2 linked regions of the Homo sapiens genome follow. The protein of the gene in region 1 purifies or fractionates together with the protein of each later gene. This does not show direct contact. Each region holds a gene or a part of one and is shown on either strand. Other genes may lie near its edges. The genes, in order: RCBTB1 and HERC3.

Region 1 (3,823 bases):
GAGAATGAGTATGTCTCCAGCATCTGGATTCCTAACCTTTAAACTGGCTTTCATTCACATTCACCCTTTCCTCCTCCTCTTGTGGAAGGAAGAAAAGGAAGACTTGCTCCTTTCTACAGTTTCTCTTGCATTTATTTATTTATTTATTTATTTAGAGACAGAATTTTGCTTTTGTTGCCCAGGCTGGAGTGCAGTGGTGTGATCTTGGCTCACTGCAACCTCCGTCTCCCGAGTTCAAGCGATTCTCCTGCCTCAGGGTCCTGAGTAGCTGCGATTACAGGCACCCACCACTATGCCCAGCTAATTTTTGTATTTTTAATAGAGATGGGGTTTCACCATGTTGGCCAGGCCGGTCTCGAACTCCTGACATCAGATGATCCACCTGCCTCGGCCTCCCAAAGTGCTGGGATTACAGGCATGAGCCACTGCGCCCGGCGCTTCTGTTGCACTTCTGCTTCAGATCCCATTCCCTGCTACTTTCTTAAGGCCCATTGAGTTGTTACATCCTCTCCTCTTTGATGTTTCTACTGGCTCCTTCCCATTAATTCAAACATGTTCAAGCCTCTAACAATGTTTACATTAAAAAGGTTAACAGAAAACGTCCTGCAACTCTATCACATTCTGTGATTACTATGCGATTTCTCATTTTTCCTTCAGAGTGAAATTTCTTGAACAAGTTGTTTATACTCATGGTTTCCTTTTCTTCACCTTTCACATACGCCTCAACCTGCTGCAACCTGGCCTCTTCCACCCACAACCTCAGTGAAACTGTTCTTGTTAAGGTCACTGATAATTCTCCTTGTTAAATCCAATGGAAGTTTCTCCACCCTTCCCTCGTTTGGTGTCTCAGCAGCATTCGACACTAGCATGCCTCTTGCCTGTGATGCTCAAGTCCCCAGATCTCTGTGACACTCTGTCTCCTGGTTTTCCTCCTGGTCTACCTCTTCCTTCACAGTCCCTTCTAGGGGGTACTCCCTGTCCCTTTCCCGTTGGAGTTTCTTAGAGTTCTTCTTAAGGTACTCTGCTCTCCTTATTTCACTTGCTTTTTTCCTGGGTGATTTCATGCCAGATTTCCAAATCTCCAATCCAGACCTTTCTTGAGCTTCAGATTTCTAAATCCATCTGTTGGGACTTGTCCACTTTAATATCCCACAGGTACCTGGCACAAATGTCCATAGTAGGACTCATCACCCCTGAGGCCTGCTGTGCTTTCTGCTGTAGTGAGTGGCAGCACAGTTCTCTCTCACTCAAGCTCAGCGTCTGCCTGTGATCTTCGGCTCTGCCTTTCTGCTTATCCAGTGCTCCTTGTCCCATTCAGCCAGTTGCAGAATCTTCTTGATTTTCCTTCTTGTTCAATTTTCTCCATTTCCCTAGTGTGGGCTTCAATCCCTTCTTTTCTGGCTTACCATAGCCATCTGGACTTCCTCTAAGCACTCCTTTGTCGTCTCATGTCTCTGTGGTCAGCCAAAGTAATCTTTCATAGACCTACATCTGTTTATGCCACTTCCCTGCTTAAGACCCTTCAGGGATTACCTGGTGCTCTTAGGATAAAGCCTGAGTTGTTTGGCTGCAGCCATGCTGACTTTCTTTCAGTTCCTCCACCAGAGCCTTACCTGGCATGAGTGCTCACTGTTGCAGGCGCCTGCTTCTCTTTAGGTAGCTGAAGCATACTTCCCAATTCTGTTGCCTCCACAGCATCTGACCAGCCACACTGTTGTGAGCATCTGTTTATGTGTCTAGATCCCCCAACCCCATGTAATTTCTGTTGGTGTTGGCTCTGTGTCCTGTTTACCTAAGAAAATTTATTGAATTAATAGTGTATGGTTCTGCCAGTCCATTGCTGGAATTTCAGTTTGGCTTTAGGTCATTGCAGGGTACAGTTGATACTTTTCATACAACTGGGGACTAATAGATGAAATCACTTTTGGGGTATCCACATGAGAAAGATTCATGAAACCATATTTAGATTTGAATTTGACCCACCAATTCCAGCCTTGAATTCATTTGGAAAATAAAATGAAGTATTATGTTTTATCCATTTCTTTTTTCTTTTTCAGACAGGATCTTGCTCTCTTGCCCAGACTGGAATACAGTGGTGTGAACACGGCTCACTGCAGCCTCAACCTCCTGGACTCAGGTGATCCTCCCACCTCAGCCTCTTGAGTAGCTGGGACTAACTACAGGCGCACACCATTATGACTGGCTAATCTTTTTATTTTTAAGGAAATGGAGTCTCGCCATGTTGCCCAGGCTGGTCTTGAACTCCTGGGTTCAAGTGATCCTCCTGCCTTCGCCTCCTAAAATGCTGGGATTACAGGTGTGAGCCACTTCACCCAGCCATCTATCCATTTCTTTAAACTTTGACCCATCATTGGTTTTTTTGTTCTGTTTTGTGACACCTGTTTGTTTGGTTTAACAAAGAACAAACTTACAGAAAAAACATTATTTCTAATCATCGATATTTCTTTTCTGGTTTCCTTTTGAAAACAACAGTATCCTATAAAAGCAATACTTTTATAAGATCTCAGTCAGCTGCACAACCCTAGATATGTTATTTTTTTCACTGCTAATGCTATTGCCACTTGGTTCGTTTGCTTTTCGAGCACATGGCTGAGGTTAGAAGTGAGACGAGATGAAATGAATGAGATGAAAGCAGCCCCTTGGATGATGGGGCTAAAGAAATGCTTACAGAGGCCATTATTGCAAATTGTGCTTCAAGTCAAATAACTTATTAGTGGTTGGGAAATGACAGTTGTAGGAACTTACATTTTCCTCTAAAATTAGTGATGAATTTGAACAAAACTTATGAAACAAAGGGTAGGCACAATCAGAGAATTCTAAAACACTAGTCATACTGTTCTCTAAATGAAGGTGGGGGTATTATCTTCACTCACCTGTACAGGTGGCTTCAGCTTGAAGGATGACAAACTACTTTGGGAGAAGGCTACATTCTCAGACTCCTTAGTCAAGCATTCAGGGCATTCTTCCTTTCCCTTTCATTCTTTTTTTTTTTTTTTCTGAGACAAGTCTCGATCTGTCACCCAAACTGGAGTGCAGTGGCACCATCTCGGTTCACTGCAAGCTGTGCCTCCTGGGCTCACGCCATTCTCCTGCCTCAGCCTCCAGAGTAGCTGGGACTACAGGCGCCCACTACCAGGCCCGGCTAATTTTTTTGTATTTTTAGTAGAGACGGGGTTTCGCTGTGTTAGCCAGGATGGTCTTGATCTCCTGACCTCGTGATCCGCCTGCCTCGGCCTCCCAAAGTGCTGGGATTACAGGTGTGAGCCACCACGCCCGGCCTCCCTTTCATTCTTGTAGTACTGTGTGTTTGCAGAAGAGAGACGTGGATGACAGCTGTTCTAGCAGCTGGGGCAATAACATATTAGTGTCTCAGCACATCTTCGAAACTTTGCCTGTGATTTGCAGCCCTTATACCATAGAGTGGGTGAAATGGTTTTAAGTTTTATTTTTATTTAAAAATGTTTGAGGCTGATTCTTAGAGGCTTATCTGGACCTGGGAAATACATTTGGTATCTCAATGAGACAGCATTTGCTCAGTCTCAAAAAGCCCATCAGAATTATATGTAAGAAATTGGTAAGAGTAACATTTGGCTGTTTGTACCTTGAGAGGGTTTTTGAATTGCTTTTGCTGTAGCATAGATGGAAGACATTAAGTTGTAATGTTGTATACCAAAGTTTACCCCAAACCGTAGAGCTCTCTTATTTGAATGTTTTTCTGGAATTAAATGGATTCAGAAATAAAGATTGTCATACCCTTCAATCTTTTGTGCTCAAATGGAACATTTATTGCTAAAAAAGGAAG
Region 2 (3,823 bases), on another chromosome or scaffold:
TATTCCCATTTGTGGTGTTTGCAGTTTTTCATAATTGTGAATAATGCTGTGATCATTCATCTACAGGTTTCTCTATGAGCATGGACTTTTATTTCTCTTGGGTAGACACCTAGCAGTGGGATTGCTGGGTCATACAGTAAATGTACGCTTAACTTCATAAGAAGCTGCCACACTGTTTCCCAAAGTGGCTTTAATCTGTTTAGTGTTGCTAAAAAGGAAGACCGGAGGCTGCTAGCTAAAAGGTTCAAGATTGGGCATGTAGATGGTGAGAGTCTCAGGCTGCTTCCTGAGACTGTTGAGCTATTTCTACCAATAGTCCCTTAAGTGAAATCTAGGTTTTTCTATCAAGCTCCTCAAAACTCTTTCAGGCTCTACCTATTTCCTCATTTCAAAGGCACATCTGCGTTTTTAGGTATTTGCTGTTGTAGTACTGTACTTCTTAGTACCGAAATCTATATGTCAGTGTTCTCCAGAGAAACAGAACCAACAGGGTGTGAAGCCGAGGGGGGTGGGGGCAAGGAGGGATTTATTTTAAAGAATTGGTTCATGTGATTGTGGGGGCTGTCAAACCCGAAATCTGCAGGGTAGGCTGTAAGGCTAGAAATTCTGGCAATAGTTAATATTTAAATCTTGAGTCCAAAGACAGTCTGGAGGGAGAATTCTTTCCTCTTTGGAGGACCTCAAGTCTTTTTCTCTTAAGGCCTTCAGCTGATTGGATATGGCCTACCCACATTATGGAGGGTAACCTGCTTTACTCAAAGTCAATGAATTTAAATGTTCATCCCAACTAAAAAAATATCTTAACAACATCCAGACTGGTGTTTGACCAAACAACTGGATGCCATAGCCTAGCCAAGTTGACCTATAAAATTAACCATCACAGTCTGTAATAAAAATTGTTGTGATGGTGTTTCTCTTGGGTAATTGTATCAGAAAAATGTCATTAGTTTAGTGTCATGGGTTTCAGAGAAGTGAGGTGTTATATACGGTGTGAGAAACTTTCAGCATCAATGATTAACATGCACAATAATCTTTTTACATTAGTGGCTTTATTTTAAAGATTGCACAGTTATACCATTTTAAAAATGGGAAAAGGGAGGCTTACTAGTTAGATACAGAAGATGGCAGAGCCTGGATTTGAACCCCTGTCTGCCTCACTTATCCACTGTATTACACCATTTGTTGGCTAGTTATTGGTGTGGATGGTGAACATGTAAAAACTATCTGCTTGGAGGAAACCCAATAATTCAAATGTAGCTTTATGAAGTATTAAATTACAGTGATGGATAAGTAGTAAATAACTATCTTCATGATGTGAAGTTTTAAAATTGTTTTTAATCTAAAATACAAAAAGTTAATGTGACAAACATTTGTATATATGATCCACAGTCAACAGGTATTTGCTTCAGATTTTTTAATAAAAGAAAAAAATTACTGATACCGCTGTACATACCCTTAATTCCAAATTACTGATACTGTTGTACATACCCTTAATTCCATTCCCCTCTTCCCGCCCTTCTTTCTTACACAGACAAAACTCTTATGAATTTGATATGTTTTTTTTATGTTTTTATACTTTTTATAATAAACATGTATGTTAAAACAGATTTTTTTTTTTTTTTTTGAGATAGGGTCTTGCTTTGTCACCCGGGCTGAAGTACAGTGGCGTGATCATGGCTCACTGCAGCCTTGACCTCCTGGGCTCAGGTGATTCTCCCACCTCAGCCTTCTGAGCAGCTGGGACTACAGGCATGCACCACCAGGCCTGGCTAATTTTTTGTGGAGACTGGGTCTTGCCATGTTGCCCAGGCTGGTTTTGAATTCTGGGCTGAAGCCATCTGCCTGCCTCAGCCTCCCAAAGTGCTGGGATTATAGGCATGAGCCACTGCACCTGGCTAGACAAAGATCTTTTTACATTAATGTCTTTGTTTTTAAAAATGAACACTTACACATCTTATGTATGCATCATATTTATAATTTCATACTCATAAGCAAAATCTCATATCCATAAACAATATGATAATACTAGTTAATACTTACAAAGTAATTGTTATACACCAGCCTTGGTTTAAGCACTCTTACATGTATTCACTCATTTAATCCTAAAGCAGTCCCATGTGTTATCTACTCTTACTCTCCCCCATTTTACAAATGAGGACACAGGCATGGAGAAGTTAAATAACTTGCCCAAGGGTCACAAGCTCTGAGTGACAGAGCTACTACCTTTTATAAGTAGCATTGTTTTAAGTGTTAAAACACAACTTACATAAATGCCATCATATTTTACTGAACATGCAAATACTTGATTTTCACTCAGCATTGTTCTTGAGATTCTATTCATTTTGCTAAGTTTAGATCTAGTTAATTCCATCAAAGTGCTCTGCTTTATGGTTTCCATCATATGACTCTACCATCTTTTCCTTGTCCATGTTCATATTAATGGATGTTTAGTGTTGTTTCTCTAAATTCTCTATATTGCAAGAAAATGCTGCAGTAAACTTGCCTGCACTCATCTTCTTGTGCACACATGTTAGCGTCTCTGCATTACCTACCCGCTAGCACAGTGGCATGGTCAAGGGTATTTACATTTTCAACTTATCTAGATATTGACAGAATTTCCCCCCAAAATGTTTATGTCTAGGTTCACAGTTTATATTTCCACTTGTGAGAGACTGAATATTCCTATGGACAATGGCCAGGCCATATATAAATAAACATGGAGCTGAGACCCACAATCTGCAGCAACCTGCCCGGGAAACCAACCTCTTATCTGCAATAAGCAGCCCAGGAAGCCAGCCTGCTATAAGTCAGACTTGCAGGCAGCCTGATTGCCATCTGTCTCGATAACTTCTGTAACAGTGGGCCCAAATAGGCCAGGATGTGATTAATAATCAGCAGCTTCCCTAATTTTTGTTCCTACTTCCAACTTAGGGCCAACCAGAGAAAGCCAAATACACACCCTTAACCAGTCACATAGGATGCCCCACTTCTAGTTAGCCCACCTGCAGCTTCCCCAGACTAGCAGCCTCCAATCAGAGTGTACCTGAAGCCTTCCCTCTTTCCACTGTAAAGCTTTTCCACTCCTCTGCTTGATTTTGAGTCTCTGCCACAACACAAGTGACAGTGGCTGACTCTCTTGCTATAGCAGCTCTGAAAAAATAGCCTTTGCTCTTCTCATTTGGTTGATCTTTATATATTTCCATGGTTGCGATATGGTTCCCATCATTTCAGTTTATCTTCCTACCAACTGCCTATGAGGTTTCTGTTTTCCCCACACCTTCACCATATTGATATAATCTCATTTTTAAACTTAGGCCAGTCTGATGAGTGCAAATGACAATTCACTCGTCTTCATTTGCATTTGCCTGATTATTAGTGAGATGGAGCCTTTATTTGAGATGGTTCTTCCCAGAGGTAAAGGTTTTATAAACAAGGAGTTATAAAATGAACCTTTTAAAACAGGTGAGGATACAAGTATCAAGTGGTTTAGCTTTATTTGTTTCTGAGGAAAATGGCCTAGAACTGTTATCCTAGACTTTTTATTTTAAGCAGAAAAGGTCTTATTATTTTTTCCACACTAAATTTTAAGCAGGGCTTTTAACATGAAAACTGGAATACCTCAGGTAAAGCCAGTAGTTTAGTTCTATATACCTGGCCTGCTGCCCTTCCTATCTGGCTTATCCTGCCTTGGATCACCTGAGGCACTTGGTGGAATGTTAGGGCTGGGGATGGAGAGGGAGGAGAGGAGAGCTGGTAACCTATATGATGCCTTAGGATGCCTCCTGATTTGAGAATTTGATGAAATTCTATTTTTTATCACTCC

The links.
Region 2: the proteins of RCBTB1 (region 1) and HERC3 purify together in Homo sapiens (affinity purification with mass spectrometry, with the first as the bait; one large-scale study listed by BioGRID). This does not show direct contact.

What each region holds. Positions count from the first base shown.
Region 1 is NC_000013.11:49,578,819-49,582,641, reverse strand, and holds part of RCBTB1 (RCC1 and BTB domain-containing protein 1), read left to right. Parts: intron 1-2,057; 5' UTR 2,058-2,137; intron 2,138-3,823. UniProt on the Homo sapiens protein: May be involved in cell cycle regulation by chromatin remodeling.
Region 2 is NC_000004.12:88,700,197-88,704,019, forward strand, and holds part of HERC3 (probable E3 ubiquitin-protein ligase HERC3), read left to right. Parts: intron 1-3,823. UniProt on the Homo sapiens protein: E3 ubiquitin-protein ligase which accepts ubiquitin from an E2 ubiquitin-conjugating enzyme in the form of a thioester and then directly transfers the ubiquitin to targeted substrates.